4 linked regions of the Homo sapiens genome follow. The protein of the gene in region 2 interacts with the protein of the main gene of each other region in a pairwise test. Each region holds a gene or a part of one and is shown on either strand. Other genes may lie near its edges.

Evidence for each region.
Region 1: the proteins of DEUP1 (region 2) and ZFHX3 interact in binary tests that used the Homo sapiens proteins (3 or more experiments, as listed by UniProt).
Region 3: the proteins of DEUP1 (region 2) and TXLNB interact in binary tests that used the Homo sapiens proteins (3 or more experiments, as listed by UniProt).
Region 4: the proteins of DEUP1 (region 2) and DTNB interact in binary tests that used the Homo sapiens proteins (3 or more experiments, as listed by UniProt).

Annotation. Positions count from the first base shown.
Region 1 is NC_000016.10:73,038,129-73,045,155, forward strand, and holds part of ZFHX3 (zinc finger homeobox protein 3), read right to left. Parts: intron 1-7,027.
Region 2 is NC_000011.10:93,389,730-93,396,756, reverse strand, and holds part of DEUP1 (deuterosome assembly protein 1), read right to left. Parts: intron 2,315-7,027; coding exon of another isoform or gene 2,299-2,314; coding exon 2,101-2,298; intron 519-2,100; coding exon 432-518; intron 9-431; coding exon of another isoform or gene 1-8. UniProt on the Homo sapiens protein: Key structural component of the deuterosome, a structure that promotes de novo centriole amplification in multiciliated cells.
Region 3 is NC_000006.12:139,239,976-139,247,002, reverse strand, and holds the end of TXLNB (beta-taxilin), read left to right. Parts: intron 1-2,312; coding exon 2,313-2,408; intron 2,409-3,688; coding exon 3,689-4,477; 3' UTR 4,478-6,942; downstream 6,943-7,027. UniProt on the Homo sapiens protein: Promotes motor nerve regeneration. May be involved in intracellular vesicle traffic.
Region 4 is NC_000002.12:25,383,564-25,390,590, forward strand, and holds part of DTNB (dystrobrevin beta), read right to left. Parts: intron 4,799-7,027; coding exon 4,639-4,798; intron 3,816-4,638; coding exon 3,726-3,815; intron 3,589-3,725; coding exon of another isoform or gene 3,536-3,588; exon of another isoform or gene 2,799-3,535; intron 2,550-2,798; coding exon of another isoform or gene 2,500-2,549; exon of another isoform or gene 2,464-2,499; intron 1,648-2,463; exon of another isoform or gene 1,503-1,647; intron 327-1,502; coding exon 273-326; intron 1-272.

The sequences.
Region 1 (7,027 bases), on a different chromosome or scaffold from region 2:
CCCTTGTCCAACAAAAGGGACCTTGTACACAAAATTAACCTGAAGCATTAGTCTGTGTGGTGCGAGAGTCCACGGGGCCCTCGGGATATTGACTCCCCCACCCCCCCAACTATCCAGGCTCAGCCCAAAATCCTGTCTAGAGGGCTTCCCCACTGTGGAGGCTGGGGGAGCTTCCCTAGAGATTAGAGACCCTGCCCCTTCAGAATCCGCTTCTCAGCTGCAGCTGTGCAGCCAAGGAAGGCCTTACCTTTCAGAGAATAAACAGAAGAAAAAAACTTCCTCCCTGACTCAGTAACAGTAGAAAACGACCTGACGTCATGGCTGCAAAGGCCCAGAATCATCTGAGAACTAAGCCATCCAATATGACGGCCACAACTGCACGCGGCTTCTGAGCACTGGACATGGGGCTGGTTCTGAGCGTTGAGACCAGAACATCATGGTGAAATCGTGGGTTGCTGAAAATATCTGTTTTAAAGTTAATTCCACCTGTTTCTTTTTACTTTTTATGAATGACTACTAGGAAATGTACAATTACATATAAGCTTGTACTCTCTCTCTCTCTCTCTCTATTGGACAGCACTAGAGAGGTGCAAATGTTACCACCTCAAGTGCTAGCACATTACCATGCTCTAAAAGGAAAGACTCTTCCTTTTTATTACTATTATTATTATTATTATTATTATTATTGAGTCGGGATGTCACTCTGTCACCCAGGCTGGAGTGCAGTGGCACAATCACGGCTCAATGCAGCCTCTACTTCCTGGGCTCAAGCAATCCACCCACCTCAGCCTCCCGAGTAGCTAGGAATACAGGCGTGCACCACCACGCCCGGCTAATTTTTGTATTTTTTTTGTAGAGACAAGGTCTTGCCATGTTGCTAAGGCTGGCCTCGAACCCCTGGGCTCAAACCTCTGGGCTCAAGAGATCCTCCTGCCTCAGCCTCTTGAGTGGCTGGGACTACAGGCACATGCCACCGAGCCTAGCTAATTAAAAAAAAAAAAAAAAAGTTTGTAGAGACAGGGTCTCCCTATGTTGCCCAGGCAGGTCTCAAGCCCCTGAGCTCAAGCAATCCGCCTGCCTCTGCCTCCCAAAGTGCTGAGATTACAGGCTTGAGCCACCACACCCAGCCCAGATTCTTCATTTTTAAATGCCAAAAAGACCAGTGTAAAATTGAGCAAACAGCATCATCTGGTATCAGGTGGAATCACATACGCAGAGGCTGCTCAACTCCCAGGCTGCAGTGAAGGTGTCTAAATGGGGGGAGTGGCCGGGAACCTGCCATTGTTTTAGACCAGGAGAAGCAAATGTAACCTCTATTTCAGGTGTTCTTAACTGGAGGCGATTTTGCCTCCCCAAGGGACAGTGGGCAATTCCTGCAGACATTTTTGATTGTCACATCAAGGGAAGAAGGTGCTACTGGCATCTAGTGGGGAGATGCCAGGGATACTAAATGTCCTACAATGCACAAGGTGGCCCACTCCCCCCAAAAACAATTATCCCCAAACATCAACAGTGCCAACACACAACCAGGAAGTGACCAGGCCTGAGATCCACCCAAGTATCTCTTTTTTTATTTTTTTATTTTTAGTAGAGATGGAGTTTCACCACGTTGCCCAAGCTGATCTCAAACTCCTGAGGTCAGGCAATCCTGCCTAGGCCTACCAAAGTGCTGGGATTACAGGCATGAGCCACCATGCACAACCCAAGCAAATTTTTAATACTCAGATATCCAGGAGCAGGAGGGGACATCCCTTTGCAAAATGGCTTCTCTCCAGAGCTCGGAACTGGTCATAAGTTTGAGCGGTATAAGCAATGTGAGGAAATGAAAATACTACTAATAATTTAAAAACTATAATCGCTTTGTCGCCAGACTGGGTTGAGTGTCAAGGGTTGATTATGTCTGGGCAGCTCTGTTTTTCAAGCTAGTAGGTAAACATGGGGCTTAAAACTCAAAGCAACATAAGGCAGGCTCCCCCACAAGCAAGAGTAGGCCTCTAACAGAGAGTCTGAACTGGGGGAGTCACTGGCATGCCCAGTTCACCATGCCTGACCACACAGGCTAGGCCTGGGTGCCTGTGACAGGCAACGGAGCAGCAAAGGAGCTGTGATGGGGCCTGCAGGTATAGGAAGGGGACAGGGCAAGGGACAGGCGAGGCCAAGACAGGAAGAGCGTGGTGCTGAATGAGAACAGCCCAGCCAGGCTGGGAGGCCGAGCAGGAGGGGGTAGAGGGGAGGCACATGATAATTAACTCTGCAAGTTGATAGTATTTGCATATAAATGCCTCCACAAATCACTACAAACAAGCCAGGACAAGTCAGGCCTATTAGCATACACAAGCCAGCCGGGGAAGGCCTCTCTAGGTGGGTCATTGAGTAGGCTGCTCACTTGGAGGGCCGCCTGCCAGCCTGGGGAGGGGGACAGAAGGGGAGGGCTGGGGTGGATGGGGGACACTGTAACTATTTCAGACTCTTTCACTTCTGAACACGGTTGCAAAGATGTCAAAAGGAGTTGGCTCTATTTCCACCCCATGGGGAAGAAGAGAATTGCTGGACCTTTTAGTTTATTTCTTCCAAGGTGGTAAGAAACGAAAGGTAGCAGAGGCCATCAGTAGCAAAGAAAGAAATGAAAAGGGCGTGGAGATGGCAGCCAATATCCGGAGAAGCTTTTCAGTATGTGAAGTGGTATGAAGCCCTGATTCCTATTTCATTTACTTCCCACTACAAATGTAAGGTATGCATTAGGCCCATTTTACAGACGAAAGAAGTGAGGCCCAAAGAGGTTAAATTACTGGTCCAAAGTCACACAGCTCAGGCCTCACCAGAGGGTGTAACACTGATGGCCTCAGCAGAGGGTGTAAGGCCCATAGCAGAGGAAAGAGCAGAGGCCACCTTTCCAAAGAGTGGGCTTTTTTGATTCACCTTTGCTTCTCCCATTCACTGTTGAGTCCCCATTTGAAGGGGATTCACAAGCAGTGCTCTGGTCCTCAGCCAGACCCTGCCCTGTTTTATTCTGTAATTATTTCCTACCTTCAAACAAACAATGAGGAAGACCACACCTCCCTCCAGTTACACATCTGGGAGTCCGCACCAGGATTTCCTCTGTCACCCAATTTTTCCACTGTCTGGACAATTTTTATAGTTTCACCAGCAAGGGCAAAATATATTGACAGTCCTTTCCCACAAGGTGTAAAAGTTCTCTGCTTTCCCCAAATATACCTCTGGATTTCCTATCTGTTGAAGGAAAAACCAGCTTCGACTGCCTCCGTTAAAAAAGGGTGTGCAGGGCTGAGGTGACCCTACTACCGTCATTTCTGCCATTCTTTACTTGAACAACATTTTTTAAGTGGGCAAAATACTATCTTATGAAAAACAAACCAACAGGGGCCCAGGTAACACACATTCATATAGTCAGTTACACAGACTGAAAGTCTTCATCAATGCCCATCTCAATTACGTTATCAAATAACATAAGGGGACACTATTCAAGATTCCATCAGAACAGAGATGGCATTTAAAAGCAGTCGCTTGAGTAGTGACACCAACCTCCTGCCGCACACACTGAAATCCATGAGCCTCTTCTAAAGTGTCCAAAAGTTGACCTGACACTTTAACGCTGATGCAGATACTCCACAAAAAAAAGCGGAGCTGTTAAAAGGGAAGCAGAAACCATTCCTCCAGTCAAGGCCAAATGTACATTAAGAACCAAGGCCTTGAGCCAAAGAGCATTTTAGGAAGCAGGGCCTTAAATGGTGGAAGAGGCTTGCATTGCTTCTTGAGTAGTTAAGAACAATTGTTTAAAAAAAGAAAAAAGAGAAGTTGGGAGATGGAGAAGAAAGGCACCCATGTGTTCTTCAGCAACTTCCACGGGACAAAGATGTTGGGAAGGGAGAAGTCATCAGAAATAGGCCACTCAGGAGACTGGAAGCATGGGGAGCAGCTCAGTTCATGTCTACACATATGTGGTTTTTATAGACTTTCAGGAGTTTAAATGCTTCTGAAAAGCGATGTTTGCATACTGAAGGGAGACAGACTTCCATATTTGAACAGGCACTTATATGACTTTTTCAGGGGATGCAGGGCTGAGATCAACTATCAGATTAAGCCCCTTGGTCTTTCTGCACTCGGCTAATCTGCCTCCTGCCTCTCCACTAAGGAGATTCAAATGAGAAGACAGAGGCAGTCGCCTCTGAACTAGAATCTTCCTACTGAAATGCAGAGCCTATGATAGAAATGGGCACCGGGGACCATCTATCCAAAAGCCAGCCTAACCGATACACTCAGAAGAATTTTTCTCCAGTCACACTCCTGGATGGAGTCAGGAACAACCAAGAAACAAGCAAAACTGTTCTTTTGCCTCCTCCTTCCTGAAAGAACCCCATCAAGAAGCCTACACATGACCCCTCCAGTGTGTAAGCCCCAATCATGCCTAACCACCCCAAATCACCCCAAGTACTCAGCCCTACTCAATAACTAACACCCTCTCCCATCTACACAGAACAGCGGGTATAGGCAGTCACTGACTCCTGCCCTAGAAGCATCGGGCGAGGGGTCTCACTCCCAGATCAAAGGTTTGTGGCCAAGATAACTTTTGGGACAGTGGATGAAATCAGCAGCAGATGAAAACTCCACAGCCTTTTTCAGAGTCCAGTGGAGCCAGTTCTCCCACTTCCAGTCCAAGTCTCCCTGCAGATGACTGAAGGTGATCCATACATTCCTAACTGCTGCCCCGAAAGACCCACTTACAATTAAACTCCAGGTCACCAGTTAAGAAAGCCTTTAGGCCCCTTATGTCATTAGCTTCCTCCCAGAAACCAAGCAGAATAGAAAGTGAGAGGCATCCCAGCACCGGCCCATCTTCTCAAGGTGTGGCCTTGCAAGGGAGTTTCAGTGGCTTCATCCCAAACCACCAGCAGCCAGGAGTAGGGGTGGGAGTGCGGCAGATGTTTTGCCCGCCTCACTGGAAGCTTTAGACCTGACTCCAGGGAGGGAAAAGGATGGACAAATCTCAGAGGCAGCACATGTGTTAATACCAAAGCTCAAAGAACACACAGCAGAACCACCTAAGACCTCCAGGACACAGCAAGCCAGCTAAGGCCCCTCTGGAAAGGTACACATCAAACCCCCCACACAGTAATCCTCATGTTGAGACTGCTGTGGTGACCCTCTGATGGACAGGGAGAGGGGGTCACCCAAAAGGCAGATGAAGCCCAGGCATTTTGCTAAGAGGCCCGGGCTGGAGTTAAAACCAACAAAACAGAAGTCTTGCTTCAAAATGGGGCTGAATTTGCCATCTCGCAAACTTTCTATGTCTCCCTCCCTGTTTTTATTTGAGCCCTTATTCTTGTAAAAGCAAGAAACTCCATGAATGAAGGCTGAAAGGCAGAAACGTCAAAGAAAGAAAAAATCCCCTTTAAATGTTAAAAGCCAAAGTACTTTCCTTGGGCAAATAACTCTCTAGAGACACCCCCATCACTGCCTAGACCACGGCCTTGTCCTCACCCACCTGTCCCCTGGCCCAAAGAATGAAAACCAGAAACATTCCAGTCGTTTCCCTACTTCTGAAGCTTCAGCTCAGTGCTGCTGTCAATCGGCACTAAGCCTTGCTCTGCACCTCTGTCCTCAGTTTCTGTCCATATCAAAGTCATTTACCATATTAGCCCAAAGAAGCCCTCCAACATCTGATTGCCACTTTGCACATGTTCAAAGAGATCAATCTGGCAGTCAACTTTAAATCATAGAGAAAAGCCCTCTGACAGTTGTTGATTTTGTAGTGCTTCTCTTTAATCTGGATTTTCAAAGTGGCTTGCCAATGAGCCAAGATTTCTGCCTGGGTCTCTCCCTCGGGGCGGTTTGACACAACCGTAGCTTCTGTGTGCTCCTTTCTCAATCTGAGTGGCCTGAGGACACAGGACACTGTGCTTTGGACAGAACAGGCGCCCTTTATGATTTAAACTAGCTCCTGCCAAGGAATTCCCTTGCCTAGATTCTATTAAAACTGGGTTCCCATTTCCCCTGACCATAGTTTTTTAACTCAGGCAGAGGACGGTGGTTCTGAGCTGTGCTGTGATTTCTAATAATAACCATTACCACCAAATTCTCATACCAGAGCATTTGGATACCCCTATGAGGTTCACTGTAATGGAATCTGCCTTCCTGTTGTGTTTTTACAGTAACGCCCCCATCCTGGTTAATTGCACCAGCCTTAGGAACCAGAGCAAGCCAACAGGCCCAAACATCACAGAAATAGGCCAGGCTAACAGCAAGCAATCATTTTAATAACAAATGAAAGCATAAACCACAGCACATACTGTACTTCTTCAGGTTACTGACAGGCATCTTCAGTGTGCAGTACGAGTGAGGGTGAGATGGAGTTTATATAAGTTTGTTCAGACCAGAATCATTGCTGCCTACTTGTAAGTCAAGGCTAAATCCTTAGAGCTGAGAAACAAGTGAGTTACTCTTAAAAGGTGAGTGTTTGTTTGTTTGTTTGTTTGTTTGCTTTGAGATGGAGTTTCGGAGTTTCGCTCTTGTTGCCCAGGCTAGAATGCAATGGCCCAATCTCAGCTCACTGCAACCTCCCCCTCCCAGATTCAAGCGATTCTCCTGCCTCGGCCTCCTGAGTAGCTGGAGTTACAGGAATGCACCATCACACTCGGCTAATTTTGTATTTTTAGTAGAGACGGGGTTTCTCCATGTTGATCAGGCTGGTCTCGAACTCCCAACCTCAAGTGATCTGCCTGCCTCAGCCTCCCAAAGTGCTGGGATTACAGGCATGAGCCACCATGCCTGGCCAAAAGGTGAGTTTTATAAAGACAGCTCACTTTCTTCCCCTTTAAATAATTCAAGCCAGTTCCCTACACTTTTACAAAATGTTGCTTAGTCACTTAAATATTTACTTTTTAAGATGACACTGTTACAACTCTGCAATAAAAATAATTTCTTAAGTAAGGGTCTGCTCTGAGCCCTGAAGCATTTCCAGATTCTTACTGATACTTTGTAGGTGGAAGAAAAAAAGCTCCTACCCCTG
Region 2 (7,027 bases):
GCCATCCACTGGGAAAGTGACAAGCAACAAAACAAGTCAGAACAAAATACGAACTAAATGTGGCATTCATTCTGACTGGGGTTTCAGGGGTGGCTTCGTTGAGGGGAAGATTGGCACTTGAATCAGGCCACATAGGATGTAGGATTTCAAAGGCAACAGCAAGAAGAAAAGCAAGGAAATAGCATGCTTGGCATATTTGAGGGAAATGATCAGAATTGAGCCCAATCCAACCAAAGAACAAGGGAGAAAACCAGACATTCCAATGTTCTAGCCTGAGGATAAAAGTAACCTCAACTGAAGCACAAGATAATTTACCACCCAACTCCTTCATGTCTAACACACAGCAAGTGCTCAATAAATGATGTCTAGGTTAATCGTGACCAATTCAGTAATCTCTTTGTTCAATTTATTGAATGATGTCAGCATATTACCATGTATTCTCCGGGGTCTAAATCTCCCATCATTCCTTTTAGATGTGTGTTTTCAGTTCTGACAGCTTTATATTTCATATCTGAGACCTGAAATTAGCAGATAAAAGGCAAATGTAAAATTCATAATAAAAACTCATAATTCTATTAAAATTTTGTCTTGTGAATACAAATATTTTCTAAGTGTAATGAAGGGAAACACTTCTTCGGTACGACCAATAACATTCAGGTATTCTTATTTAGTTCTCCTGTCTTTGGCAGGCACCACTTTACGTCTTTTTCTGATCAATGCTAAACTACAAGCATATACTTTCAATAATGATTCATTTAGTTTTGTCCTACAATCCCAAAATTCCATTTCTGGTTTCTATTTTCTATTGTATGCAAATTGTCACCAGAAAAAGCACATGTTAAAAGCATGTTTGAGTAACTGTCCATTAAATTTATTCAACACCTGATTAATTTTTACAATAGGCAATACATAACTTTCATGTTTAATTTTGTTCTGATATTTCTGCCAAAATTCCATCTTTTTTAGTGACTACTTCATTTTGTCTCTCAATTTATTTTATCTTTCCCTGATTTATTCTACTTGACAGGACTTGGATATGGTATCTGTCCTTTTACTTCTCTAGGACTCATTTCTGTATAAAACACGTGCCTTAAAAAGATTTAATTTTGTAAATTACCAATTTATGCTCATTGACAAAACCTAGAAAACGTACAAAAATATAAAGGTGAAAATAAAAATTATTCATAATCCAACTAGCCAGATCACTGTTAACACCTGTAAAATATCCCTGCCTATACAGGTACAACCAAAGAGATTATCCCATCTGTGCTGTTTTCCTGTGTACTGCAACAATAAATCACGGTTTAAGGCTTACAACTGGGCAAAGGCTAAATCTTTTCTGTTTTCATAATTCACGATTTTAGTCATGTTATTTGTGAAGTGACCCTCATATGCCTAGAAAATTATTAAATGATGCTCTCAAAACCTTTAGATTTGGGGTAAAAAAGCAGATAAACCCTGTGCTCTCAATAGTAGGCCATCCATTTGATCATGAGTAAGGGATGGAGGGAATTTAAAAAATAAATAGGCAGGAAGGAAAGGAAGGATGTAGAAGTTACTTGTAGTATTTTAACAGAAGAATGTTACAATTGCTGTTTTTCCTCACGTACCATGCTGTGCATTGACTGCATGTTCAGTAAATATGAACTAATTTTCATGTTTCAACATCCATTTGTAAAAAGCCTGAAAGAAATACATGAAGTGTGGGGGAGGGGTAGGAAGTGTTGAAGAAGAGCTGGAATAGAGACTTTTTTTTAAAGATAAAAATGTTAATGGAAGAGAAATACAGAAAAACATACTCAGGAAGAAATATTTGATTAGAGTGTACTGTGGGAGGTGATCAGAATATAGGTTACAAGAAAATGGAAAGATGAGATTTAATGAAATTGTCTTGCACTGTCATTTCCCTAGTCCTTTTTGTTGGTGACACTTTGTGTTATCTCTGAAAGGTTTTATGTAACACCACAAAGCATTTCTGTGAAGCTAGTCTCAGAAATAATACCAAGAAATGTAATGTTTTCATTAGTCAATAATGAAGGCTACTATTGGCACTGAGCAAGAATGTGCCCTAGACAAGTGCTATTCTGCCTGCTTGCATACCTTTTGTTTTGCTAACATTTTTTCTTTTATTTCTAATTCCATTTTTAACTGTTTTTCCAGAAGGGCAGCTTTCTTTGTGACAGTTGCTATAGTGATCTCCTTCTGATGAAGCTCTTCTGTTAGGTCAGAGATTTCATTCCTCATTCTTTCCTGCTCAGAGTTATGGTACTCTTCCACCTGTTGGAGTTGGCTTCTTATCTGCAGCAGATAGAGACTGGAAATATTATTGAATCCTTTTATTTATAGAGTAGCTTAAAATTTTACTGGCCATGTTCAGTCCTTCTATTCTGAAACTTTGTCAGGGCCCACTTCACCCTCCTTTTCTGATCAATGCTAAATTAAAAACAGATACATATAATAATGACTCATTACCTTTTTTCCTTCCAATTCCAACATTTCATTTCTCACTTCTATTTTCTGTTGTATGCAAATCATCACCTATGACTGATACTACTTTGATAACCACTTTGAGAGGAAGGTAAAGAAAGTATTATCAAGCATTTTCATGGAGAAAAAAATTGGCTTTAAAATGGTTACATGATTTGCTCAAAGTCATAAAGCTAATAATCGGCAAAGCTAGGACTGGAATCTAGGACTCTTGGCTTTAAATTCAGTGCTTTTTTAAAACTAAAATAGGCTGTACTGTTTGTAACTAAACATTTGTTTCTCAGAATCACATTACAGTAAACTTCAAACAATGTCTTCATGAAAACTCATCACTTCCCTTACTTAAGCCTCTTATTTTCTGAATCTTGGCTAAGCTTCCATGTTACAAACCTCTGGATTGTCTCTGACTCCTCTCCACCCTTGTCCTCCCAAACCTGGTCAGGCAATGAATTCTGTCCATTCTATTTCAACCTCTTTTAAGTCTTGCCTCTGTCTCCATTCCTACAACTGCTGTCTTTGTCTAGCCTCTTAGCATCTTTCTAGAAACCATTACTGTTTCTAATTCTTGAGACTTAAAGTACATAATCATCCGTCTAAAAAAAAATCATAGTCCATTGGGGAAACAGAAAAATAGACGATTACAACACAGTGTAGCAATTAGTGTCAGCAGTATGTAGTGGCAGTGTGTTTAACCCAGCCTAGGGATGACAGGATAGGATTCCCAGAGGAAGGGTCATCAGACCCAAAACTGAAGGATGAATGAATGCCAATTAGAGATGCTCTAGCCGGGCGTGGTGGCTTGTGTGGGAAGCTGAGGTGGGAAGGATGCCTGGAACCCAGGGGGCAGAGGTTGCAGTATAGTGGGCTGAGATCATGCCACTGCACTCCAGCCTGGGTGACAGAGCAAGACCCTGTCTCAAAACCCTGTCTCAAAAAATAAAAATAAAAAAAATAAAAAGGCATAGAAAAAAATAGAACATATAGATGCTCTATGAAAAGTAAAAACATTAGCCGGGTGTGGTGGCATGTGCATTCAGTCTCAGTTAGTCGGGTGGAAGGGGCACTGGGGTGGGAGGATCCCTTAAGCCTAGGAGGTCTAGGCTGCAGTAGGCCCTGATTGCACCACTGTATTCCAGCCTGAATGACACAGCAGGATCCTGTCTCAAAAAAAAAAAAAAAAAAGAAGGAGGAAGAGAAGAAGAAGGAGGAGGAGGAGGAGAAAGAAGTAGAAGGAGGAGGAGGAGGGCTCAGAGGAGGAGGAGGAGAAAGAAGGAGGAGGAGGAGGGCTCGGAGGAGGAGGAAGAGGAGGAGGAAGAGGAGGGAGGAGGAGGAGGAAGAGGAGGGAGGAGAAGGAGGAGGGATCCCAGGCAAAGAGCTCAGTGAGTGAAAGCATGGCACACTCAGTGAACTAAAAGGAGTTTAGGGTAGCTAGGAGTTAGCTGCTCTGAGAAATAAGGCTGGAGAGTTAAGTAGAGGCTAGCCACAAAAGAAACATGAATTTTCTCCAGGGCACTTTTTTAAAATGGATTTTTTTTTTCATTTCACCTTTAAACATTTCAGTATATATCTTTAAAAGAACAAGGCTCTCTCTTTTTTTTAAATGTAGCCAGAATGTTATTACAATGTCTGTAAAGATTAAGAATTCCTTAATATCATCAAGTATCTAGGCAGTATTCAAATTTAAGCTTGTCTCAAAAATATAATAAATGTTGTTTAAGTTTAATTGAATTAGTATCTAAACATGATCCATTCATTGTGACTGGCTCATATATCTTTTTAAAGCCTCTCTTTTTGTGTGTTCTAAGTAGTTTACATGCATCATCTCATTTAATCCCCACAATGTCTCTCTATTTTGCAGACTACTGTATTTAGCAGATTAGAAAATTAAGGTGCATAACTTTTCACATCACATTTCTTGTGAAAGGCAGTCTAATTCCAGGACCTGTGAACTATTGTGCTCTGCAACCTCTGTGGGAAGGGTCCTGGAAGGTGTGGAAGGTGGTTCACATTTGGAAAAACCTGAGTTTTAGGGGTTGACACCTACAGAGAGATTGGAAAAATCTGGGTTTTAGGGGATGACACCTAGAGTGAGATCAGAAAAAGCTGTGTTTTAGGGGATGGCACTTAGAGTGGGGTGACCTAACATGGAAAGTACACATGTCCAGAGGCAAATGTGATCACCATCAGGCTTTATGCCACCAACCCTTCCTTCATCTGATTCTATTCATATTACCAGCATATTCAGAGTTTCAGAGTTGGATATGACCTTAGAAATCACATGATCGAACCTCATCATTTAACAGATTTTTTTAAAAAAGAGTCACAGGAACGAGAACAAGGCGGAAACTAAGAGACACGAGCACAAGTATCCTAACCCGGAGGACAATATTACAAATCTCCTTTAAATCTCTTCTGTCTCCAAGTTTTTACCTTCCAATTTATTTGATGAAATAACACGGTCAGTCTATAGTTTGTCCCAGTATGGATTTTGCTGATCGCATCCCTTTGGCATAGTTTAACCTGTTCCACTTAAAATGGAACTTTTTTTTTTTTTTTTTTTTTGAGATGGAGTCTTGCTTTGTCACCCAGGCTGGAGTGCAGTGGCACAATCTTGGTTCACTGCAACCTCCACCTCCCGGGTTCAAGTGATTCTCCTGCCTCAGCCTCCCGAGTAGCTGGGACTACAGGTGAGCACCACCATGCCTGGCTAATTTTTGTATTTTTAGTAGAGACAGGGTTTCACCATATTGGCCAGGATGGTCTCAAACTCCTGACCTCGTGATCCGCCCACCTTGGCCTCCCAAAGTGCTGGGATTACAGGCGTGAGCCACGGCACCTGGCCAAAATGGAACTTTTAAAATATAAAAAAATGAATATACTACTGTGAAAAAGGAGTAAACTATTTTTATTATTTTCACAATATTTAGATGTTAACACAACATACTATACTGCAAAACTTCTTTCTTAATGAAAGAAGAAACTAATTTACCTGAACTCCAAATGACTTTTGGTTTATTGAAAATGTGAATGTTATCACAAAATAAATGGCTAAAACAGTTCTAGACTGGAAAAAAGGAAAAGAAATAAAATACTTGCAAGATTCATAATACATAGCTCTTGTTAGTTTTATTACAAAAGAATTAAAATGCTCTTCAGAAACACTTGGAAGCTTTTTTTTTTTTTTTCCTGAGACAGAGTCTTGCTCTGTCGCCCAGGCTGGAGTGCCATGGCGCAATCTCGGCTCACTGCAACCTCCGCCTCCCGAGTTCAAGCAATTCTCCTGCCTCAGCCTCCTGAGTAGCTGGGATTACAGGCGCCTGCCACCGCGCCCAGCTAATTTTTGTATTTTTAGTAGAGACGGGGTTTCACCATGTTGGTCAGGCTGGTCTCAAACTCCTGACCTGGTGATCTGCCTGCCTCAGCCTCCCAAAGTGCTGGAATTACAGGTGTGAGCCACCATGCCCGGCCACTTGGAAGCTATTTATATAAAATTCATTTGTTACCTTTTTTTTGCACAGCATTCTGGTATTTAGTGGCCTCCAAGGGTCTATAAAGAATTCTGTGCCTCATACTCTCTCCCACCATGTCAAAACTGTGCAAAGTCAGTAGATTCTTTATATTACTCAAAGTTTTATTACTTTATCTAAATCTATGAGGTTAAGAATCATGTAACTATACTTTAGGTGGCTTTAACCAATCTTTTATCATTCACTGGGGACACCAGTAAAAAAGAGTTTTTCAAAGTTATATTTTTAAGTCAGCAAAATAAATTTTGTGGGATTATATGGCATTAAAGTGTTCAAAATATATGAAAAATGATCACTGATTCATAACACCTTTTCTCTACTTAACCTCTGTTAGTTCTCTGACAGTCAACTCTTTGGCAGACAGTACCTGTCTTTCATATTATTGTGTTTCCTATAGAAATTAGCAGAATAGCTATAGTTCTCCTAGATACTCAACAAATGTTTGTTAAATTTGTACAAACAACTGAATTTATGACCCTATATATTTATGGGAAAATTTAGCCTTAATATTAACTCATTCTCTAAGTATTTAATTTACTGTGTGTCAAGCACTATGCAGTGCACTAATTGATAATTCAAAGCCACACCCAGGTTTATTTAACTTTTAATTGTTTAGATTTTATAGCATTAAATATTCTGCCTGATCCTCAAACCTAAAGACCAGAGAGGTGGAGAATAGCTATGATAAATTCACAGAAAGAAGGCCATTACTGGATTGTACTAGAGGGAGGAGAGAATCATACTCTTTGTAGGAGAGTAAAGAACCACAAGCTCTTTAAGGACAGTGCCCAGGACTTACTCATCCTTGTATTTCTAGCTCCAGCAGAGTTCCTGGCACATGTTAGGTGCTCAGTGAAAAAATGTGGGTGCAATAAATAACTACTGAGCCAATATTTACTAGATACTTCCTCTGAGCTAGATCCTATTTTAAGCACTTTAAGTGCATTATCTCATAGATTTTACCTTAGGGTAAGAGTATGGATACTGGAGCCAGATTGCCTAGATTGAAACAT
Region 3 (7,027 bases), on a different chromosome or scaffold from region 2:
GAATTCAATTCTGGTGTGTTCTTGCTCATCAAGTGGTCTTACTCATCAATTCACTTAACTTCCTGAATCTAATTTTTTTTTTTTTTTTGAGATGGAATTTCGCTCTTGTTGCCCAGGCTGGAGTGCAATGGTGCGATCTTGGCTCACTGCAACCTCTGCCTTCCGGGTTCAAGCAATTCTCCTGCCTCAGCCTCCCGAGTAGCTGGGATTACAGGCATGCACCACCATGTCCGGTTAATTTTATATTTTTAGTAAAGACGGGGTTTCACCGTGTTGGTCAGGCTGGTCTCGAACTCCTGACCTCATGTGATCCACCCACCACGGCCTCTCAAAGTGCTGGGATTACAGGCATGAGCCACCATGCCTGGCCTCTAATTTTTTTTAATCTATGCAGATACTACTTTCCCTGCCTAACTCACAAGATTGTGAAGTTAAATTAATACATTTTGGAAGGGATTTTAACTTTTTACATGTATTTTTCAAATATAAGGTGCCAGTATTATAATTTAATGTAATGTTTAAAGCTTGTTCAGTGTCTTCCCAATACAAAATCAGCCATCAGAACTGTGTTTCCGAACAGGGATTGGCATTAATGGTTTTGAGGTGTAGAAAACATCCTCTTAAAATATATTTTTAAAATATTATGACAAATTTTACAATGAGCAACCTGAAGAAGATTGGCACTTGTTAAATGTTACAGTTCTCCCACTTCAGAATGGAACTATCCATTTGCTTAATTTTTTTTTGAAATTCTAGCATTTTAAGATTGGAATAAATTAGAACAGGAAAACATGTTTTTCAAAATTATGTAGTTTTAAGAGTGGAATAAATATTAAATCAGGAGTTCTTAATCTTGGGTCCATTTATGGACGTTAGTAGTTGACCTGAGAACTCTCTAGAAATTACCATAAAAAAAAATGATGCACATATGCACATTTTTGTGAAGTGTGGTCCCATAGCTTTCACCACATTCTTAAAAAGATTGATGACCTTAAAGTTTACAAACAACTGGCTGGGCGCAGTGGCTCATGCCTGCAATCCCAGCATTTTGGGAGGCTGAGGCGGGTGGATCACTTGAGGTCAGGAGCTCAAGACCGCCTGGCCAACATGGTGAAACACTGTTTCTACTGAAATACAAAAAAATTAGCCAGGAATGGTGGCAGGCGCCTGTAATCCCAGCTACTCAGGAGGCTGAGGCAGGAGAATCGCTTGAACTCGGGAGGCAGAGTTTGCAGTGAGCCGAGATCACGCCATTGCACTCCAGCCTGGGCAAAAGAGTGAAAAACAAACAACAACAAAAAAGAAGAAAACAAAGAAGTTTACAAACTACTAACTAATTTAAAATATGATCAAAATTAAAAACCTAGCTTGTCTGTAGAGCCAGGGGCTGACAGTCTTGGGCCCAGCCTCTGGCCTCCGTGGGTACCCAGCTTCAGGCAGCTTGGCACCAAGCAGCGAGTGCCCAGCTATGTTTCATCCAGGAAAACTGCACCTGAGTACATGCCTCGTTCTCCACTTCATCTAAGCAAAGAAGAGATCCTACAAACAAGAATGTGAGTAGCCTCAGGTTCGAAAAACACAGGCTGCATTTTATTCACTTCTTACTTCCTCGTACCCAGCCCAGGGCCTGGTGACCACCAGACATTCTATATGCTTCATTAAATGAAATAAAAGAATGGCAGCCCCACTGTTCTGTTAATTCACCTAAATATTACTCTACCTCTCCGAACTTCGGTTTCCCCATTTATAAAATGGGGGTGAAAATAGAACCTTCCTTGTGGGACTGTTTCAAGGATGAAACAAATAATGCATGTAATCACATTTTGTGAACTCTACCTCACTCTATAAATGTAAAGACCCAGAAAATACAGAGACTGCTTTTGTGCAGCAACTTCTCAGATGTGCCCAGATATTATCAACATTTTAATGGCTAAAAAGGCCATGCCAGCTTTCCCACTGTGATAGTCTTCTATTCAATACAGTAAATATCCTAAATTACAGGCTTGTTCATGGAACTCCATAAAGATATTCTTCTTTTAAATGAAAGAAAAAGCAGTGACAAAACCATGTGCCCCTAAGTCATTTCCCATTTCCTGAATTGGCTCAGGTGCAAATAAGTTTGCTTGCCACTGCCCTAGACGGCTCAGAAATAAATTATGACTCTGCTACAATCTTCATTCTTGACATTGAACATTTGTTTGCTTCAGCATCTGGTAACAAAAGGGCTTCTCCTGGTCTCACATATGGAGCTAATAGCTTCCTTGATATATTAACTTTTCAAGATTAACACACACTCACTCTAATTTCTGTAGACAACTAAGAAAATGAAGAAGCTGGAAAAGGACACAGCCACATGGAAAGCCCGATTTGAGAACTGTAACAAAGCTCTGTTGGACATGATTGAAGAGGTGAGGAAGTTTCTCCCTTAGCTTTAATCCCCTCTGTCTAGTCAAAACATTCAAACTTACGATACAATTATAACCTGGTAATAGTACAAATGGTTATGTGTGAAAAAGAGTTGAATTTGGGGTGGCAGGATGTGACATTTTAAATTGTAATAAGTATAATAAGAGCAAAGGTCATTTAGAATCAGGTCCAGACTCAGAAAGAGTTTTGTGACCCTAAGTCACATGCTTACCTGTTGATTCAATAGCTGTACCCAGGGCAGCTGTCCCCTTTAAGGGCTGTGAATTCCTTAAAGGTAGGATGAGTGTCTTATTTTACTTTAAATTTCCCCAGTGTCTGACACATAACAGGTGCTGAATAAATTAATTAGTTGATTTGAACATACTGCGAGAAGACACCAGCCCAAGAGTCCAGTGCATGTGCTATTTTCTAATATAAACAGATATGGAGATATCTTTTTAATTCCTCCAATAGACATTTAAACACTGATCTCATGCCAGGCTCCAAGTAGGTTTTGAGAGTCCAAAGGCAAAGATACATGGCCCCTGACCTGAGAGGTAGGGCTTACAGGTGAAGGTCTCTCCATGTATAACGAGTGGGGGAAAAAAGGTCTCAAAGGGACAGAGTAGCTCAGAGGTGAGGTGAAGGAGTGAGATAATTAGGAACATTTTCATGCACAAATAGACATTTCTAGAGGAAAAAACTGAACCGTTTGAGCAGCCAGCATCGTGAATTAGTATATGGTGAATTTCTATGGTTATAATTACTGCTCTAACAATTCTTCTCAAATTGCAACCAATTCCAAAGAGATATTACTCATCAACATAAATCAAATGGCTGCTGGGATTAGCACATAGCAGTTTATTCATAGAACAGATAAGGAAGGCATTGCTGAAACCCAAGTCCCAATCCATCTCATTTATCTTGCCGCAAGTCTTGCTTCTACCTTCTAAGTCTCAGAAGCAGAAAATTCATCCATAAGATTTGAGAGGCTATGGACCAAAGCAGAAGGAAGCCTGACCATCTTTCTTTCCCAATGAACAGGGTATGGTGATTAAAGAATCTACCAGTCTAGTACACAATGCCAAAAAAAAAAAAAAAAAAGGAAAGTGATGTCCATGACCAAGCATCTGTTCAGCCCCTACTCTGTAGCCAGGTCCCAGAGCCTAGTAGACAAATTCTGGGACAAATAGTTTTGCTTGTTTCCAGAAAGCATCCTGGACATTTTGCTTATCATGTCATTTCATCTGTGTGTGTATGTGCGTGTGTTTTCACATCACAGAAAGCACTGAGAGCTAAAGAATATGAGTGCTTTGTGATGAAAATCGGGAGGCTAGAGAACCTCTGCCGTGCTTTACAAGAAGAGAGAAACGAACTCCACAAAAAAATCAGAGACGCAGAAATATCTGAAAAGGATGACCAAAGTCAGCACAACTCCGATGAAGAGCCAGAGTCAAACGTCTCTGTGGATCAAGAGATTGACGCAGAGGAGGTTAATAGTGTCCAAACCGCCGTGAAAAATCTGGCCACAGCCTTCATGATAATTCATCATCCAGAGTCAACCCCGCACCAGTCCAAAGAAACCCAACCCGAAATAGGCAGTTCTCAGGAGAGTGCTGACGCCGCTCTCAAGGAGCCAGAGCAACCCCCTCTGATCCCTTCACGGGATTCAGAGAGTCCCCTGCCTCCCCTAACTCCTCAGGCTGAAGCCGAAGGAGGCAGTGATGCTGAACCTCCCTCCAAGGCCAGTAATTCTCCTGCCGGGTTGGGAGCAGAAACCCAATGCGAGGGTCTCCCTGTTGGAGCACAGGCTGATCAGGCGTCCTGGAAGCCAGAGGCAGAAGCTTCCGGTCAGGCCCCACAGGCTCCCACCGAGGCCTCCCTACAGAAGATGGAGGCAGATGTGCCTGCTCCAGCATGCGCAGCAGAAGAGCACGTTGCAGCCATGGTGCCTGCATGCGAGCCCAGTAGGCAGCCCCCACGAGCAGCAGCAGAGGAGCTGCCAGTAGGGGCCTCAGCTGGGCCCCAGCCGCGCAACGTGGCTGACACCAATCTGGAAGGCGTCGACTAAGCCTCACCGTGCCTTCAGAGGCTTCTTCCTGCCTCTTTGCATATTCAGCATAACAGCTTGTCTTCCGAAAAAGGCATTAAGGGCTAGAGATGTCAAATGGAAGAGACTTAGGATCAAGACATTTTTTAATGTTAGGCAGAACACATTCATTCAGACTTTGCTATTTGTTGTCAATTTATAGCTGATTTGAAGGTTTTCTATTTAACACTGGTTGACAGTATAATTTTCCCAAAGGGCAACAAAACATACAGATAGCAAATTTATATTCCTTTTCTGTTAAGATAATACTTAAATTTGTTAATCACCAGTAAGATTTGATGTTTAAAGACTTCCACTGCAATATATAAATACTGAAAATGTGATGTTCTGCTTATTTGGATATATAGTTTAACAAGTTCCATAGTAATTTATGGATGCCCAGGTTACATTTAAACTATACATATACATAATATATACATACGTGTGTACTTATTATATGTATATATACACGTATGTATAGATGTGTGAATATTTGTTTATATACATATATGCACGTATCTATATGTATATATAAATGCATTATTACACATACATTTCTCTCACCCCTTAATGCATTTTTCTCAATGCAGAATATTTAGATGCTAATCAAAAAAATGATCTCTTACTTGCACTTGAGACTATGGTTGACTAATGCTCTATAAATCCGAAGAGAGTTCGGACTATAAGTATTTAGGCTATCATTATGTTGGGCAAAAATAAGTAACCCAATGGTAGATAAATGAATTCAACCAGTTGATCAAATGGCAGAAAAGCAGTTAGACTACAATCTGTGCAGACAGCATGGACACAAAGATGACCACAAGGGGCCCAAAACAGAAAAGAGAAACACAAGCTCACCTCTTGGAGCTGCTTCTCCTACACTTCTCAGCCCATTGCTTTGCCACCCCCTCATGTGCCAGGGCATCCCATTCCAGGCTTCCTGCAAGGAAACGGTTGGAAGTGGGAAAGGGGAGCTAGGGATTGAGGGGTTAAGGGACCTCACACTAAGAAGGGGCTGTGCTTTGATCCCCTGCCTCTTGCACTACCAATGTCTCAAGACATAATATTCATCTCTTGCTGTCAGACCCATTCTATATTCTAAAAGCTTCTGCTCCTTCCTTCCCAATTTCTCCTTTGTAGCAGGAAATTACACCCAGCCCTCATCTCAATTAATGCTAAATAAAGCTATTGTTTTTCCAAAACACAAATCTACACTGGGTCTCAATATCAGTGATGAGGCTTACAAACCAACACGTTTTCTGCCATGAGGATTTCTCTTTAGGCCAGAAGTACAAAACAAAAAAACCAATGGATTTTAACCAAAATGATTTGAAATATAGGTGAGGATTCAGGAGAAGGCAAAAGCTAGAAACACTTGGGGTTGTCAACATGAGTATTACATTAACATTGCTTGATGAGAACCTCTAATGATACTGACAACATAAATTACCTAGGGTAAAGGATAGCTGCAACAATGAAACAGGAAAGAAGAGAGGGAGAGAGAGGAAAGGGAAGGAAGAAAGGAAGGAGGGAGAAGGGAAGAAAGAAACAATGTCTAACCCAACCCTATCTTGAAAGTTGAACTCAAGTAGAAAAATGGATAGAAACAAAATTCTCTAGTACTCATCCAGGAAACCATTCTTCAATGTTGCATGTGGCTGTTTGCCAAGGCACACAAAGTGCTTGTAGGCAGCAACCATATGCTACAAGAATTGTAAACTGCATACAGTTTGTTTGAAGTAGACAGTGAGGATAATAACAAAGTTGCTAGGCAGGAAAAAAAATCAGGAAAAAAGCTTGTCGCTATTTGAGAATCTGTATATTTTTAAAGGCTTAAAATATTATAACCACAGGGTATCCAGCCAAATTCAACATTACTGCAAGTCTTAGAGATTTAAACATTCATTTGATTCAGAGCTAAATATTCACCATAATCCAGGAGGGTCTCCTTCCCCACTGCAGAGGCAGAACGTCCAAGAATGGAGTAAGATTAGTCATAGTAAAGTCTCAGTCTGAATATTTAGCAAGAGAAACAGGCAGCAGAGGAACCCAAAGGCAGTAAATCAAATATTCTAAAACCCAAAGTTCATTATTTTCATCCAAAAGACTTTCACAGAAACACATTACTCACAGCCATGTATATCTTGGACAGAGTTTCAGATGGAATGACTTGTCTGAAATTTGTAAAGCTTAATATAGGTTTTGGGGGAATTATTTTAATATTCAAAGAATGTTTTATTATAGTCCTTTGTGTTAAAATTTAGCCTTACTAATTATAACAATAACTCATAAAGTTCTAAATTCAGAAGGAATGTCTGTTCTTTATCAAGTGTATGTAACTATTTTTTAGAAATGCCATCTACTTTCTAGAAACACTAAAGTTATTGTTTTCTAAGTTAAATAACTATAATTTATATATCTATTAAAAAGGTACTTCTCTTCCCAAATTCTCTAGTACTCATTTTATTTTTTTAACTTTGACTTATTTTATTTTTGTTTTTATTACTTCTATGTTTCGACAATACCTAATGA
Region 4 (7,027 bases), on a different chromosome or scaffold from region 2:
GTCATCTTTTGTGTTCTACTTGTATCTACTTCCTGTATCCCAACTACCTATCCCAGGATCAGGAAATGAGGAAGCTCTTGGTGATCGACTGACCTTGTCACCTGGAAGGTAAAACCTGACTGTCAGATGGGAAAAGTAGGTACAGGGACCTCGGGTCCGAAAGCTCTGGGAAAGGTGGTGGCAGGGAGGAATGCAGAAACAAAGTGGGGGGCGGCTGATCCATGAGCTCGGGCTCCCCATTTAAACGAGCAGTCCTGCTGAGCTGCCTTTACCTCTGTCTTTCCCATTCTGCATCTTCTCTTCTTCTTCCTCTGCACCTTCCTCTGCTGTGAAAACAAGTCCAAGGAGGCCAGTGACCCTTCGGCACAGGACAAGTACAGAAGGAGGGTGAACAAAGCAACTGCTGAGGCTTGGGAGGAAACTCTAGCTAACAGCTCCTGGCTGCAGGCCTCTGAGGGTGCTTCAGCTCACCAGTCTGCACTTGTGCGGCCCACGCCCCAGCACTGCTGAATAGGAGCCCGTAAGACCACAGCCCAAAGGGAGCAGTGCGGTCACATCGCTCACTTTCCTGACCAGGGCTGGGGGCGTGCAGTGTGGGGTTGCGTGCCTCTGTTCTATGCCTGTCTGCCCTCAGGTGGTGATGACCAGGGAGACATCTAATGTCTTGCATTCAGGTTTAAGAAAGTGACCATACAATATATGGTGGGGGAATACCTAGATTAACACGGGGTTCTGTTAAAAAAAAAAAATTCCGTATGTTTTAGCTGATGATAAACTTAAAATGACCGCACAGTGCAAAGTGGCTATGTGGGAAGTGCTAATGCCGTCTAAGGTGCTTTTCCAGGGGACACTCAAGAGGGTCACAGATGCCTTGTGCTCTGCAGGGACAAGATCCCCTGTGATGGAGAGCAGGGTGCTGGGCCCTGGGCATGTACTTTGAATAGGAGCCTTGGAAAATGGCCACATCCTGGTATGGTCAAGCAGGCTGGTAAGAGAAAACCATGTCACGTTTGGAAAGGTTGAAGGAATTGGGTGTAGCAGTCTACAGAGGAGAAAACTAGGAAGGGTTGTCATTTGCCATCCAACCCGTGAAAGGCGAGCCTGCAGAGGAGGGACTGAGCTTATCCTGGGTAGCTTGAGAGGACAGGGATAAATCAGTTACAGAAAGTGAGATTTTGGCTCCCCACTGAGGAAGAAGTTTCCAGTGATTAGAGTTGATCATGAATGAGCTCGCTGGAAATATTCAGAGGACTGTTTTATTGGGTGGCGAGTTGGATTAAATGACTTCTAACATCCTTTACAATTTTTTTCTTTTCTTTTCTTTTTTTTTTTTTGAGATGGAGTTTTGCTCATTGCCCAGGCTGGACTACAGCGGCGCGATCTTGGCTCACTGCAATCTCTGCATCCCAGGTTCAAGCGATTCTCCTGCCTCAGCCTCCCGAGTAGCTGGGATTACAGACATGCACCACCATGCCAGGCTAATTTTGTATTTTTAGTAGAGACGGGGTTTCATCATGTTGGTCAGGCTGGTCTTAAACTCCTGACCTTAGGTGATCCACCTGCCTCAGCCTCCCAAAGTGCTGGGATTACAGGTGTGAGCCACTGTGCCTGTGGCCTCGATCCTTTCCAATTCTAGGATTCGATTATCTGTGAAAAAACTTTATAAAGATGAGGACTACAAGCTATGTATATACAGTATGTATACACTGTATAGAATATATGTAAAGATAATCTGAGTATGTCCTCTCATTGGAACAAAAACCTGTCAAGTCACTGTCAAGGAGACAGTAAAAACATGTTGGTGATGGGTGAAGCTATTCCATTCACTGAGAAATTGGCACCCTCACATGTAAAGGGAGTTTATGTCTGCATGTTAGAGGGATACCGTGCCATGTGTGGCTTTGGTCCACGTCTACCTACAGGCTTCAGTGACTGAGAGGACAGCATCAGGGAAAGGGGCCTCTGGGACTCTGGGTTTGCTATCTTGTCCTGGAGGGGAGTAAGATCTCTGGCTTGATGCTCTGAAGACCCAGGTTCTAGGACCAGCTTTCCCCCTTCAAGCTGCACGACCTTAGGCAGACCACTTTTCTGATAAGCACAGGCTACATCTCTAAAGTAAGGGACTGGACAATGTGCTCTCTAAGGCACCTTCCAAATTACACTACATAATTTTGTTGAAACCATCCTTTCTTACTATGAGACACTGCTGAGGATTCCTATAAGCTTTACATTTTTGTGAAGCTATTTGGTCTCTATGTGCTTTCCACTTAATGGTATTTAATGACCTCTCACCCTAGCACGATGAACGCAGAAGCCACTTATTTTGCATAAACTCTAATAAGTGGCCATGAAGTACAAGTGTAGTTAATTCCCATGGCCCGAAATTCCCTGAGAAATTTCCTCTAAAAGTGGGATTTCTGACATCTGTGGGGAGCTGCATTAGGGAAAGCGCCTTCTAATCACCTGTGAGGTCATCCTGAAGGCTGTCGCCTCTTCTGTTTATGTGTACAGAGCGGGGCCGTGCTTCTGATGGGGGTTGAGAAACAGTGCTAGAATGGAGAGGGTGGCACCATCAAACAAGAGAGGCAGCGTCTGACCTTAACTGACTGGAAAGACGAAGCTGGGCTATACACTCACTTTGGTCTGTATGAAAACAGGCAGACTTGAGAGCAGAGCTGGGGGCTCTGTCCAGTCCCATGACAACCCTAAACATGTGAGCTTTCTCCTACGAAGGGCTGAAAAATACCCAAGGCTTGCCTTCCCTAAGAGTGTTTGAATAAGTGTATGTGTTTGAATCGTCCGTGGAAAAACTGCTTTATCTTTTTATTTAATAATCCTGTTAAGCTACTTCAAGGTATTTAAAAGCACTACATTAGGTGGAAAGAAACAAAAGAGAGCCATCAGTGTGAGTGACCTACAGCGCTTAGGGAGGGAAACCATTAGTTTAACACAAAACATGGAGACCCCACCGCTGTGAAATCGTTAGTGACTCTCTGGCCCCTACGTAACTGGTAGAGTCATGGGGATTCCTGGAGATAGGAGGATACGTGAATGGCCTTTTATTTTCTCTCTCTTTCCTGGGTTTTATGTAAGGTGAAATGCCACGAGGTAAAGGTCTTTGGGAAGTCACTGAATTGGTGAGGTGATGGAGAGACTGAGAAAGAAGTCACAGATGAGCTGAACACAAGGAGCAGAAGAGGCGACAGACTCAGGTCATGAACTTCAGGTGAAATCAGAGCCTGGTCACGGACAAAAGGAGGGAATAGGTTTCAAAAACAAATCAAACAGGAGAGAGCAGAAAGGCAGCAGGGGAAGGTCCAGAGCTTTCCTGGCTGATTCCGCTCCAGACCTCCAGGGAAGTTTCAGAATGAGGTGGTCGGTCAGGCCTAGGGAGAGAGCGGCTGTGGACAAAGTACAGATGGAAGACGAGGTAAGTGAGGAAGGGGCCTGCCTGCACTGAAAGGTCTGAATTTCTCTACATTCAGCTTGCTCCACAAGATGCACTCCTGAGATAGGCCTGAATGTGAAACCGCCCCTACGCGATCCTGTGTGACAGAGGCTCTCTGGGTGGAGACATCCAGTGTGTTCCTAGAAGGCAAAGTTAGGTGATGAAATGGGGTGGTGCAAGCTGGGTGGTGAGGTTCTGCCGGTGCTGGCAAGGAAGTGAGAAGGGCGCGGGCAAGGCAGGGGAGGCCAGGAAGCTGGCTGGGAGCTCTGGGTTTCACCTGAATGGAGCTCCTTCACCAGGGATGACATGGTGTTGGTGATGGAGTCAGCTGCCACCAGCAGGTCATTGCGGAGGTTTCTCCTCGTACCTGAGGAGAGGCAGAGCAGATGGGGATGCCAGGGTGGGTGAGCGTGGAGAAGAGACGGCTGAGCAAATGCCTCAGTTCTGCCAGGCCCGAGAACACAGGTGTGGAACACCTAAGGGGAGATGGGGCCACAGCAGCTCCACCCATTCCCAGGCACACCGGGGGCAGGAGGCACCAGCCCACTGGTCCCTCTCCCTCTGCCCTCTCTACCTAGGGAGCAGCATCCTGTCAACTCCACGCTTTGCCGCCACCACACAATCCAGAGCTGGGTTCCAGAATAAGCATTCCACCGAGGTCTTCCTCAGCCTTGTGGGGGTGGGGCTGTACTCTCCACAACCACCACTACCACCTCCCCTTCTCACCTCCAGCCCCAGCAGGACTTCCCTCTGAATCCCCACCCAACTACTTAATACTGCTGGTCACCAGCTCCCCCGATGACTGTGACAATGGCGTGCATACTGTGCTTTCAGCACGGTCCCAGTTACAGTGCCTGTTACAGTCCCTTCTAGGCCAGGGAATTATTCCATCCAATTCCTCTGGAGGAGACAAAGCCCAAAGGACAAAGCACTTCCAATAATCCAGAAAAAAGGGCAGAGAACCCCAGGAGGCCTGTTCTTGGCACACATAGGAAGCCTGCAGCCCTCCCGCTGGAGACCAGCCCGTCTCATGAGAAGGGGCCAGCACCTGACTTATTTACACTGTCTGTCAAAATCTGATCATTCCAAGCAAAGAGCACAAAACAGAAATGGAAAAAACCTCAGCAGGAATCTTGTCCGTGTTTGCACATCCCTTCAGCTCCCCGCTGAACTCTGCTCCAGAAACTCACCTTGTGCGAAGGCCTCCTGCACGTCTCCCCCGACTCCGCTCAGCGAGTCCTGCGGACAGTGGGTGGGGGTGGAGCCGGCAGACGTGGAGCGCACTGGCATGGGCATTGGCCGGCCGCCTCCATGGGTGGGCGATGTATGTGGTGACCCTGTGGCCTGAGCCTGGAGATTCAAAGACAGAAAATACGTTATCTCAAGTACCTGACCTCTTTGAGGAAGGAAGAAAGTACTTTTTCTCCATCAACCAGAGCCAGCCAGTGGGCCTCAGTTCAGTGGTACAAGATCATACTTGAAAGGAAGGAGTTAGGCTGCTTCCAAGACTGGAGAGAGGAAGAAAAGGAAAAAAGGAAGGGGGCGTGCAGGGCAGAGAGAGAGAACATCCTAAGAACAAGACCAAGAATGGGAGGGAAAGAAGAGGCTGGCACAGAGTGGTGGAGACAGAGTGAGCTGCGTGACTGGGCCAGGGCTCTAGAAGGGCTTGGCTTGCAGGGCAGGAAGTAACATGCAAACAGCTTTCATTTTGTTTGCAAACACATTCATGTACATGTTCTCATTTGGACCCCTCCCCCCGCTGCTGCCGGCAACCTGTGAGTGGAAAGGACATACGTGTGTGTGTGTGTGTGTGTGTGTGTATGTATATATTTATATACGTATATATCTTTTTTGGAGACAGAGTCTTGCTTTGTTGCCCAGGTGGAGTGCAGTGGCACGATCTCAGCTCACTGTAACCTCCGCCTCCCAGGTTCAAGAGATTCTCCTGCTTCAGCCTCCCGAGTAGCTGGGACTACAGGTGTGCGCCACCACGCTGGGCTAATTTTTTGTATTTTTAGTAGATACGGGGTTTCAACACGTTGTCCAGGTTGGTCTTTAACTCCTGAGCTCATGCAATCTGCTCGCCTTCGCCTCCCAAAGTGCTAGGATTACAGGTGTGAGCCACCATACCAAGCCAGGGTATATATTTTTATGTCCATTTTATAGAAGAAGAAGAATGGAAAGAGACGTTGTGTCAGGCCACACAGCTTGCCAGTGGGAGGCATGGGAACAACCCCTTGACTCCAAGGGTGGCAGTGTGCACTCTGCAGGTTGTGACCCCACTTCCTGCAGGGCATGCTCTGAGCATGTGCGGAGCTCGGCTGCAGGCTGCAAGCGGGGCCATGGGGCCAGTCATGCCACATGCACTGCACATGTACAGCAAGGCTGTCCGGGGCCACCCCGCGGGGACGAGGTGAGAAAGGACACATGGTAAACAGAAACCAAGCTTTCCTTGGGAGGCCCTGGTATAGTTGTGGAGAAAGTTTGGAGCAATGGGATAAAATAAATAAAAGGAGAAAACTAATCAAGGGCCGCTCACTGAGATGTGGGCTCTGTAGCTCTTCAGCACAACGGGAACTGAGTGTGGAAGGTGGACTAGGGTTTTCTGTGGAAGCAAAACTGGAAAAAATAGAAGCCAAAGTGTGAGAGTGAATTCAAATGAAGACAGTTATCCTTCTTCTAGCTTTCTCAGCTAGAAACCCCATATACAAACAGAATTGGCCCTGAACAGGTGGACAGGCTGGACGCACGACACCCCACCGCAGTGCTTCAACCGTGTGGCCACCAAACTCAACAGAAATGGATTGTTTTCTGTGGTTCTTACTTTGAATCATTTGTGTGTGTGTGTGTGTGTGTGTGTGTGTGTGTGTGTATGTGTATTTTGAGAAGTTAAAAAAAATACAGAAAACTAAAAAGTACAACATAATTAACCACCCCAAATTGGTAACTTCATATTGTGTCAAATGTATTTCAACCTAAAAATATTGCAGAAAAATTTGCAATATTTTTGTCCACCAGTTCTTTCCTGTTCCAGTTCTTTCCTCTCCTCCCTTCAGAGGCAACCCCTATCAAAATTCTGCTGTGAAACTTTTAACCTATATGTGCATGTATAGCTATGAATAATAGATGGTATTTCACGCTTTTAAATTTTGCATGAATGGTATTGTACTGCTCATATCACTTTGCAATTTGCTTTAATCACTTAGCATGCTTTCTGAGATCTTTCCATGATACAAATAAATATGAACTAAATCAAAATGGATCATAGTAACTATAAGAGCTAAAACTAAAATGGATCATAGTAACTATAAGGGCTAAAACTATAAAATTTCTCTAAGAAAACACCCAAACCATGATATGTAAAAACAAAACCAAACAGATAAACTGGCTTTCATTGAAATTTTAAACTTTTTCTTTTCTTTTTCTTTTCGTCTTCTCTTTTTTTTTTTTGAGATGGAGTTTCACTCTTTCACCCAGGCTGGAGTGAAGTGGTGCGATTTTGGCTCAGTGCAACCTCCGTCCCCTGGGTTCAACCAATTCTCCTGCCTCAGCCTCCAAAGTAGATGGGATTACAGGTGC